Regions from separate parts of the Homo sapiens genome. Here all the other regions are linked to region 2. The links come from fine-mapping of genetic effects on gene expression. A gene starts in region 2. Each other region holds a variant in brackets. All regions are shown on one strand. Distances are between the middles of the regions.

Region 1 (2,683 bases), 160 kb before region 2:
AACCAGATTAGACAATCAATCTAACCGTCAGTGAAATCTACTCATTATTGGATTCTGCCCAGCCTTCCTTGGATGGGAGTTGCAGCCTGATAGCAAAAAGAAATGAACTAGACCTGAGAAGGACAGGGCCAAGGCCAAGATGAACCCAGGGAGCCGGCGTCCAAGTTGGAAGAGGAAGGTGTGCGTACTTTGAGTTCAAGGGCGGGCGTCCAAGGCTGCCCAGATTCCGCACGCATCTGCACCCTGCCTTTCAGTTAACACAGCGGAGAGAGTGAGGCAAACACCTCCAGACAGTACCCTCCAGCATAGAGAGGAGCCTCCTTACAATGGGAATGGGCAGCTCCGAGCCCCTGCTGTCCAGGGCAGGAGCTCTGGGTACAGAAGCCATCAAGACCTGCACAACCACAGAGAGAAGCCACCAGATCCCCACCGCCACCCCGCAGGCAGTGTGGGGGCTGCGCCTAGTGCTGCCTCAGCCGGATCTCCTCTGCCCCACTCGGCGCAAGAAGAGAACCCACAGGTGTGGGAGGAGAGGGCCGCAGACCCACCCCTCCCAACACCAGACTCAGCTCAGTGCCCTCTGGCACCTAGAAAAGTGCCCAGCATACACTGGCCATGCAGCAAATAGTGGCAAGGAAGGGCAGATTCCAACATCCTGGTCCTCTGCGTGGTCTTGGACAACAGGCTTTACCTCTCTGAGTCTCAGTCCCCGCTCTAAAAACTGTCATGATGATGATAATATCTGCCCGAGTGTAAGAAGAGACGGAATGGCAAATGCATGGAAAACCACTCAGGCGACTGGAAACACTCCACAAAGCAAAGGATTAAAGATTAGAAAACTGTCTCCTCCACATGCGAACCTGAGGACCTTAAGTTAAGGGAAATAAGCCAAGCACAGAAACACAAACACCGCGTGATCTCACTTACATGTGGAATCTAAAAAGCTGAAGGCATGAAAGTACAGCGCAGGATGGTGGTTACGAGGGGCTGCCGGGAGGGAGAGGTTTGGAGAGATGTTGGTTAAAGGGTACAAAATTTCTATTAGGAATAATAAAAATAAAATTTCTATTAGGAATAATAAAAATAAAATTTCTATTAGGAATAATAAAAATAAAATTTCTATTAGGAGCAAAAAGTTCAACAGTTCTATTGCACAACATGGTGACTATATTAATAACAACGTATTTTACTCCTGAAAATTGCTAAGAGAGTAGATATTAAGTCTCACCATAAAAATATGATGTGCATGTGAGGTAATGCCTATCTTAAGGGGCTCAGTGGAGCCACTCCACAATGTATACATATTTTAAAGCAACATGTATGCAATAAA[C/T]ATATACAATTTTTTGTCAACTAAAACATTTTTTAAAAAAGAAAATTATCTCCTCATTCCTCTCAAATATGCCCAGATAATATTCTGTGGCCAAACAAGTAAAATTCTGTTTCCTCACTTTCATCTCTTAAACTGACCACAATCTGGGCTCATCATCATCATTATTATTATTATTATTTTTGGAGACAGAATCTCACTCTGTTGCCCAGGCTGGAGTGCAGTGGCGCTATCTCGGTTCACTGCAACCTCTGCCTCTCAGGTTCAAGCAATTCTCGTGCCTCAGCCTCCTGAGTAGCTGGGATTACAAGTGCCCACAACTACACCTGACTAATTTGGCTAATTTTTTATATTTTAGTAGAGACAGGGTTTCACCATGTTGCCCAGGCTGGTCTCAAACTCCTGACCTCCGGTGATCCACCCACCTCAGCCTCCCAAAGGGTTGGGATTACAGGCGTTAGCCACTGCGCCTGGCCTGGGCTAATAATTAACATACACACATCTCAGACAAACACGCACTCAGACACACACACACACACACACACACACACACACACATTCTCTCTCTCTCCCTCTCTTTGCCACCTCGCTCACACACACACACACACACAATTCTCTCTCTCCATCTCTTTGCCACCTTGCACACACACACACACACACACATTCTCTCTCCCTATCTCTTTGCCACCTCGCTCACACGCACACACACACACATTCTCTCTCTCCCTATCTTTGCCACGTCGCTCACACACACACACACACACACACACATTCTCTCTCTCTCTCCGTCTCTATCTCTTTGCCACCACACACACACACACACATTCTCTCTCTCCCTCTCTCTTTGCCACCTCGCTCACACACACACACACACACACATTCTCTCTCTCTCCATCTCTTTGCCACCTTGCTCACACACACACACACATTCTCTATCTCTTTGCCACCTCACTCACACACACACACACATTCTCTCTCTCCATCTCTTTGCCACCTCGCTCTCACACACACACACACACATTCTCTCTCTCCCTATCTCTTTGCCACCTCGCTCACACACACACACACACACTCTCCCTTTCTCTTTGCCACCTCGCTCACACACACACACACACATTCTCTCTCTCCCTTTCTCTTTGCCACCTCGCTCACACACACACACACCCATTCTCTCTCTCCCTTTCTCTTTGCCACCTCACTCACACACACACACACACACACACATTCTCTCTCCCTCTCTTTCTATCTCTTTGCCACCTCACACACACAAACACACACACATTCTCTCCCTCTCTCTTTGCCACCTCGCTCACACATACACACATTCTCTCTCCCTCTCTGCCACCTCGCTCACAC
Region 2 (2,683 bases):
ACACACACACACACACACACACACCCTACTATTCATAGATGAGGAAACTGAGGCCCAGCAGAGCTAGATGACTTGCCGAAGGTCAGAGCTAATTCTAGAAACCCATCCCCAATCCCTTCCTGCTAAACCACTTAATTTTATTTATATCCCAGCTATAGATTATACAAATACACTTGACAAATAAAACGGAGAATATTGAGTTAAAACCACATCTCTGAAGACCACACGCATAAATAACGATCGTGTTTTAATGCGGACGATACCTTTTCATTTTGCAAATCCAGAGTTCTCATCATATCAAAATTCAAGACAGTTTGTTCTGTAAGAAGGGGAAGGTCATAACCCTGTCTAGAATGTACTGGCAAATCTCTCTAACCGTGCAGTGCTAATTTGGGCCTGAGCTGTGTAACCAGACCGACTTCACGCTCCAGCTGGGGTTTCAGATCCACACATGGCGATTGGGTGGCTCTTTGCTGTTTCACAGCAAGGGTCCTTCCCTGGGCTCCCGGAGCCTCTGGGGATTTACTGCTCCCGACGTGGCCGTGTTCAAGCCACTGTGTGCATGCGCTTAATGTTGAAAACATTCTTTTGAAAAGCCCAGGAGATTCCACTCGCAATCTGTGCGTGTGCATGTAAAAGCGCAGAGACTGGAAAGAACCGCGGCAGAGCACACCCTGACCGAAGGTTACCGCGGGGGAGCCGCGGCCGTGGGAGAGCCGCGGCCGTGGGAGGGAGTGCGATACGGTCTTTTCACTCTAGACACTCCTGAGTTATGTACAATTCTACGCAAGAATGTATGCGTGTGTTAGCATGTAATACATATGTATTAGTTTTTTCAGGAAGATTCTTAAACAACAACAAAATCTCTATAGAACAAAGGTGCGTCTCCGCAGAGCGCAACAGCATTTGTCTTGGATGTAACCGCCTTCTCCAGAAATCTCAGAGGAACTCCCCTCGACCACCGCCTAACTGAAGGACACCGTGCGCTCCACCGCAACCCTGCGGGCGATTCGGAAAGTTGGAGGCGCCCCGGGGAGTCGCCGCACTTGCCGCCCGCGCCCCCTAACCTGAGCATTCAAGGAGTCTTGACTTGGCCGCTGGCGCACTCCGCACCCACCCAGCCGGTGCTGATGCGGGAGGGTGGGGCCGCGGCGGGGCGGGGCAACGCGAGCCCGCACCCCGCTCCTCCCCGCCCCTCCCTGCCGGCCCCGCCCGCGCGCGCCCCCCGCCCGCGGCCCGGGCGCCCGGCCCGCCCCCTCCCCTCGGCGCGCAAACGAACCTCGCGACGCCGCGCTCGGCGGCGGGCGGGGGCCGGGCGAGGGAGGGGGCTGGTCCCGGCCGCCCCACTCTGCAGTTGTCTCCCGAGCGCTGGCTGCGCCGCCCGAGCCGCTGGGCCGGGGAAGCACTGGCCGTTCGCTCCCGGGCCGGCTCCGCCAGGCGCTCGCAGGCATGCAGCCCGGGAGCAGGAGGCGCTCCCCGGGCCGCTGCTGAGCCGGCCGGGGCGGCGGGGACCAGCGCCAGCGGAGCCCCTCCCACCTTGCCCCGGGGCAGACGAGCGGCGCCCCGACACCCCCTCTTCTCCCGCAGCCCCGCCAGCGCCACCCCCCGCGGGCCGCAGGGGCTCATGCAGCCGCCAAGGTAAGCGCGGGTCGGGAGCCGGGCAGACCCGGCTCTGACATCTCCGAGGCGCCGCCGACACATGCCGGGGCCACGGCGCTGCTTTGGTCTTCCTTAGCCCCGCGTCTCATCTTGCTCCCATCTTGCCCACATTTGGAGCTTTGCTGCGCCTCTATCGCTTTAGCTGTTGGCAGCAGGAAAGTTTTTGTGGTTTGGTGTTTGTTCTTTTTTCCTAAAATACTCTCCCCCGGGCAGCCGCCAGCGCGCGTGGTTGGGCAGACCCGGCACACGTCCCTTACACCGTGTGCGGGCTGGGAGCTCCTTCCCTCAGCCCGGCTCGCGGAGCCCCGGACGGAGCCGGCCACCCGACTGTCCCGCCGTGAACCCCCATTGGCCCGCGCCGCCCGGGCCCCCGCCTCCCGCTCGACGCCCGGCTGCGGAGCTGCCTGGCCATCTCCTGCCCTCGGGGATGTCGGCGCAGTGCACCGCGTGGGCTCGCGTCCCGGCGGCCCTTTGCCTCGGCGCGCCGGCGTACGGGAAGGTGCGGACCTTGGATTGAGGGCCGAGGATGCCCATTGCCAAGCCGCCCCGGCTTTCCTAAGTGGACGGGAGGGCACGGCGACGATTCAGCGCCGGCTCGCGCCGCAGCTCAACCCAGGGTACAAGCCCGGGCATGGGGGACAGGTGTATTCAATGGGAGGGCGGGTGTGGGGGACGCTCGGGTGCAATTCGGGATTGCGTCTTATTAATGTAATTGTATTAGACTTGCTCGGAGGTAGAATCAGTTCTCCCAAATTGAGATTTCTAATGGGAGCCTGTGAGCTGCTATTATGTGGTGTGGTTTTGGGAGGTGTTGGGTTGTATTTATTTTATAAATTGGGTGTCTCGCGGGCGGAGTAGGGGAAGTAGCGCCATCTAGCGGAAGTGGTGAGCTGTGCATTCCTCTTAGGCTGCGAAGTTGTTGGGTGTTCTCAAAGTAGTCTCCCGCACAAGGTGGAGAGGCGGGAACCAGCCCTCGCCTCCAGGAAGGAGGCTACAGAAGCTCTCTGAGTATCGACGGTACCAG
Region 3 (2,683 bases), 160 kb before region 2:
GGGACTGGACCAGAAATCCTTAATATCAATGTAAGCAAATCCACCTCTTTTCTGCCTTATGGTTTGGCTCTTCCTATTAGCACCACCTAGTAAGCAAAACTCGCCTTGTGGCTTAAGCTCTCCTGTTGCCCTAAAGATGGAATGCAAGCACCTCACACTGATACACAGGGCCCTTTTAATCCCAACCTTGCCTGCCTCTTTTCTGTTACCAAAGTCCACTCTTCCATCCACAACTCTGCCTTGCATGTACTGTCGCTGTTCTCACTTTTTTTTTTTTTTTGAGATGGAGTCTCGCTCTGTTGTCCAGGCTGGAGTGCAGTGGCGCGATCTCGGCTCACTGCAAGCTCCGCCTCCCGGGTCCACGCCATTCTCCTGCCTCAGCCTTCCCAGTAGCTGGGACTACAGGCACCCGCCACCACGCCCGGCTAATTTTTTGTATTTTTAGTAGAGACGGGGTTTCACTGTGTTAGCCAGGATGGTCTTGATCTCCTGACCTCGTGATCTGCCTGCCTTGGCCTCCCAAAGTGCTGGGATTACAGGCGTGAGCCACCACACCCGGCCCTCTCACTTTTAAGATTCCCTTGTTTCTCTTCTTCAGCCTGTAAATGTGAAGATTCTTTCAAGTGTCACTTCGCTTGTGAGTATTTGGGGTGTCTTTTTTTTTTTTCTTAGAGTCTTGCTCTGTCACCCAGGCTGGAGTGTAGTGGCTCGATCTTGGCTCACTGCAACCTCCGCCTCCTGGGTTCAAGCGATTCTCCTGCCTCAGCCTCCCAAGTAACTGGGATTCCAGGTGCACACCACTATACCCGGCTAATTTTTGTATTTTTAGTAGAGACGGGGTTTCACCATGTTGGCCAGGCTGGCCTTGAACTCCTGACCTCAGGTGATCCACCAGCCTTGGCCTCCCAAAGTGCTGGGATTACAGGCATGAGCCACCGTGCCCGGCTTGGGGTGTCTTTTCAACTCAGTACAGCATTGATATTTGCACATTTAACCAATGTGGTTTCTACTTTGGGAAATAAATCCTCATGGCCCAGAACATGTTACTGTTATTATATCACTAAGTAGTGCCTAGTTAGAAGAAGAGATACTCACCTGTTCATGTTACAGGTGCAGAAGCTAAGCCTTCATCAATGCCAGTGCCAGACACACATTAAAGGCGGCAAAACATTTTGTTCAGTCTACTGCCTTAGAGGAAAGAGACTCCAATATAACTGAGCTCAAAT[C/T]CAGCTAGGACAAAGGTATGGAGGTTTCTAAAGGGAGAACAGAGAGGGAACTAAAAGGGATTATGGGGAAGTGAAAGGAGGGAATAAAAAAAAAACAGACTAGAGGGGCTATGGGGAAATGGAAAATTACATAAAGGGGGATGGGTGGAAAATTACTAAAAATTATTTGGCAAGACAACAGTATCTGTTGGGCAATAGAGATTCTGCAGCTTGACAGCATTGCAATTTTTTGAGCCCAAACGCAGCACCAGGCTGGGGTCAGTAGCCCTCAGAATCACGGCGAGTGCAGGTGGAAGCCAGGATAAAGTTAAGACAAGCCTCCCAGTGTGGCGTTCAGGCAACTGCTTTGTGCCACGTGGGACATGCTTAGGTAACCTGCATGTGGCTGAACGATCGACCGGTGTCAAAGCCTAGGTTTAAACACAAGTCGGCCTGACCACAATGTCTGAAGTCAACCCCCGTGTTACTTAGGTCGGCATTTGTAATGTTGCTGAGGTGTGGCGTGAGCCCCATGGAAGGCTTGTGAGCGGGAGGGAGTCATTTCACTAGTGAGGCTGCCCCACCGCCCTCAGCTTCATGGTTACCTCTGGTCCTGAGGTAACAGGAAGTCTTGTGAAGAAGAGCACTTTGTAGAAATTTGCCAGTTGAGACTCCAAAAAAACAGCCTGGTGAAATAGGTGAGTGATTACTTTGAGATGGAAGAATATGCAAGAACTACTTGCTTCTTGATGGGAATGTAATTTAGGAAAAAGGCAAAACATTCATTTCACAAACATGGAAACTTTCGTAAGTTTCTGGAAGTTTCTAGAAGTCCTCTCAACCTTCACTGAGATACAGTGAACTCTTTGAATGGGTTTTGGCAAAAAAGAAAGAAAAGCAAGTGTCATTGTTTCCATATGAACATCAGCCGTGAGACACTCCATTGTAAGGCACACTTTCAGCAAAAAGAGACATTAGCAACACTCCTCTCTGTGGCAGAGAACAACAGGTTGTAAAACTTAAGTCCCCCTCAGAGTCTAATTTAGATAATTATAGTTTGCCTCCTAGGACTCTCCCTGAGGATCCAGCTGGCTTTGGCTGTCATCATTACTGCTATTCTTCTAAATTACTGGGCAGGGCAGGATGACGAGGCTGCGCCTGACGCAGGGAGAGCCTAGGAGGAAAGGTGTTCCTCCATCAGCGGCTCGTCCCTGTCTGACAAAAACCATTATTTTGTACAGAGCACAACGCACCCACACTCGGTGTAACAGAAGCAGAAAAATCAGCAAGGGTTTTATGTGGTTTTTCCTGTCGCTCGGCCTTTCCAAAATGAGACAGACCTCCTGCACTCTCCTGGAACCTTACATGCTCCTTCGCAATAGACCTGATTCAGGAACACCAGCTGAGCTGACTCGGAAGCCACATCACATAGAAGCTAAGAACACCTTGTCAAAGCCCGACTGTGTGGGTTCCTATCC
Region 4 (2,683 bases), 86 kb before region 2:
AGCTTCAGGGGAGGCTTTCTTCCCATGCCTAGATGGAGCAGAAGCTCACACTGTGCACCCAGCAATGAACTGGGACCCTTTTGGAGGCACCTGACTCGGGCTTCTGGATTCTGTCAGGAGGCAGATGTGCCATTACCAAGAGGCCAGGCATTAGAAAGTGCTCAGCACGGTTCTCGCAGGGCAAAGGCAGCCCCCTGCTCAACTCACTCATACCTGAGGAGATGTGAAGCAAAGGTCACGGAAGGCCCAAGGTACTCCTGGCACCCCTAGACCCCAAAATACAAAGGACCAACAGCGCCATCAGGCACACACTCTCTCTCTCTGCCCCTTGGTCTCCCTCTGTCTCTTCAACTCTATATCTCTGTCTCTCTTTGTGTCTCTACCTCTTTCTCTCTGTCTCTCTGTTTCTATCTCTTGGCCTCTCTCTGTTTCTGTCTCTATATATTTCTCTCTGTATCTGTCTCTATCTCTCTGTCTGTGTCTCTATTTCTCTCTCTCTGCATCTCCGTCTCTCTCTCTCCACATCTGTATCTCTGCCTCTCCCTCTGTGTCTCTATCTTTCTCTCTGTCTCTATCTCCTCCCAGGGCGGAGGAGCTCAGCTGCTAATATTCTGGAAGCTTGTAGTTCAGAATCTATCAGAATGTTGGTGGGGAGCCCTCCGTGTTGATATCTGGCTGGAGCAGGCATTGCAGGCAAAGATGAGTTTTCTGCAGCCCTCTCTCTGTCTCTGTTTCTGTCTCTGTCTATCTCTTTCTCTGTCTCTTTCTATCTCTGTCTCCATCTCTCTTATCCCTCTGTGCCTTTCTGTCTCTGTCTCTATCTCTGTCTCTTTGTCTCTGTCTCTATTTCTGTTTCTGTCTATCTCTGTCTCTCTTTCTGTCTCTCTGTCTCTGTCTCTCTCTGTCCCTGTCTCTCTGTCTGTCTTTCAGTCTCTGTCACTGTCTCTCATATGCTCAAGGGTATTTATGCTACGTGGGCATTTGCAAGGAGCTTTTGAGTCTGAGTTATCATCTGGGATTTCTATCAGGCTCCATCTGCTTCCAGAACTGTGT[A/G]CAAACAGTAACATCCAAAGCTCAGAAAAGGGAGGACATAAAACATTTTCATTTGTTCTGACCAGAAAAGCCATATGATCTAGAATGTGTGAAAGAAAGTCAGAAAAAATAAGGGAAAACAGATTGTCAGTGCTGGTCATAGCCCACAAGAGTCTCTCAGACCCAAACAATGTGGCCCAGACGTACATAAAACAAGCCCACAACATATGCCTGTGTCCAACAGCACAGCTTTCTGAGCCACTCCTCCTTGTCTACTGGAAGAGCAAATGAACCTGGTTGAAATCCTGGCTCTACAGCTTTCTACTATGTCATCTTGAGCAAATTCTTAACTTTTCTGAGCCTCAGTTCCCTCCACTGCAAAATAGGACTAGTAATTTCTACTATGTAGGAGTATCATGAAGATTAAACCCTTTAAAAACCTCTAGCATGGTGTCTACCACGTCACAAGGGTTCAGTAAATGGTAATGGTGGTGATGGCTGTTGTGGTGTGGTGATGGTGGCAAAGATGATGGCACTGAAGGTGGTAATGAGAGTGAAGGTGGTAATGGTGGCAGTGGTGGTGGTAGAGGGATGTGGTGATGGGAACTATGGAAGAGGAGATTAAGATGGTGCTGGTGGAGGTGGTAGTTGCAGTAGCAGCATCAGCATTTTAGGAAGACCAGGCATATCAGTGACAAACTGCTCCTGCTTGTCAGATGCATTTCTCCCTAAAAGACTTCCAGAATCACCATTATGCATTCCAATCCTGCTATGATTGGATATTTGACCCTCCAAACCTCATGTTGAAATTTCATCCCCGATCTTGAAGGTGGAGCCTAGTAGGAGCTGTTCGATCACAGGGGTGGATCTCTCATGAACAGCATGTGCTATCCTCATAGTAACAAGGGAGAGTTCCTGCTCTATTAGGCCCCAAAAGAGTCCCCTTGAGAGCTGGTTGTTAAAACAAGCCTGGCACCTTTTCCCTTGCTCTTGCTTCCTCTCTCATCATGTGATCTGCACACACCAGCTCCCCCTTCACCTTCTGCCTTGAGTGGAAGCTTCCTGAGGCCCTCGCCAGAAGCAGATGCCTATGCTACGCTTCTTGTACAGCCTGCAGAACCGTGAGCCAAATAAACCTCTTTTCTTCATAAATTACCCAGCTTCAAGTTGAACAATGAGAACACATGGACACAGGGAGGGGAACATCACACACTGGGCCTTGTCAGGGGGTGGGGGGCATGGGGAGGGAGAGCATTAGGAAAAATACCAAATGCATGCAGGGCTTAAAAGCTAGATGATGGGTTGATGGGTGCAGCAAACATGGCACATGTATACCTATGTAACAAACCTGCACGTTCTGCACATATATCCCAGAACTTAAAGTAAAATAATTTTTTAAACAAATCACCCAGCTTCAGGTATTCCTTTATAGCAACACAAACAGACTAAGACAAATCCCTTCAGCCTGATTCAGACAATAGCTGGTTATGAGTCATTTCAACACAGCAAACGTTGAGCCAGGTCTGGGCTAAGGCCTGGGAGTGCCATCATGAAAAAAACATGTGCATTCTTTCGCCTTTCTCTTGACTCTTTCACTTCCTGCCTCCTAAGTACTCAGCTTTCCAAGCACAGAGAGGCTTTTTTACCAGCT

Direction of the effects. Positions count from the first base shown, and alleles are read on the strand shown. Sizes are in standard deviations (SD) of each study's normalised expression. Not every link is listed here.
With allele A in place of G in region 4, the expression in prefrontal cortex of the gene that starts at base 1,346 in region 2 is higher (small effect, 0.34 SD a copy in GTEx).

The links.
Region 1: its variant is fine-mapped to the expression of RGMA in blood mononuclear cells (TOPMed, PIP above 0.99).
Region 3: its variant is fine-mapped to the expression of RGMA in blood mononuclear cells (TOPMed, PIP above 0.99). The same link has a PIP of 0.9 or more in monocytes.
Region 4: its variant is fine-mapped to the expression of RGMA in prefrontal cortex (GTEx, PIP 0.95).

The regions. Positions count from the first base shown.
Region 1 is chr15:93,242,984-93,245,666 of GRCh38, reverse strand. The region is part of intron 4 of LOC105370982 (a long non-coding RNA gene); the gene reads right to left. Among named protein-coding and RNA genes, the nearest start is that of RGMA, 160 kb to the right of the region's middle. RefSeq lists enhancers at 1-393, 394-903. The variant C/T (reference allele first, on the strand shown) is at 1,331.
Region 2 is chr15:93,087,874-93,090,556 of GRCh38, reverse strand. RGMA (repulsive guidance molecule BMP co-receptor a) reads left to right here and starts at 1,346. Exons shown (of 4, transcript NM_020211.3): 1 at 1,346-1,638. The coding sequence starts at 1,625. LOC101927025 (a long non-coding RNA gene) reads right to left here and starts at 1,343. Exons shown (of 5, transcript XR_007064769.1): 1 at 1,280-1,343.
Region 3 is chr15:93,246,624-93,249,306 of GRCh38, reverse strand. The region is part of intron 4 of LOC105370982 (a long non-coding RNA gene); the gene reads right to left. Among named protein-coding and RNA genes, the nearest start is that of RGMA, 160 kb to the right of the region's middle. The variant C/T (reference allele first, on the strand shown) is at 1,227.
Region 4 is chr15:93,173,496-93,176,178 of GRCh38, reverse strand. No RefSeq gene overlaps it. Among named protein-coding and RNA genes, the nearest start is that of RGMA, 86 kb to the right of the region's middle. The variant A/G (reference allele first, on the strand shown) is at 1,054.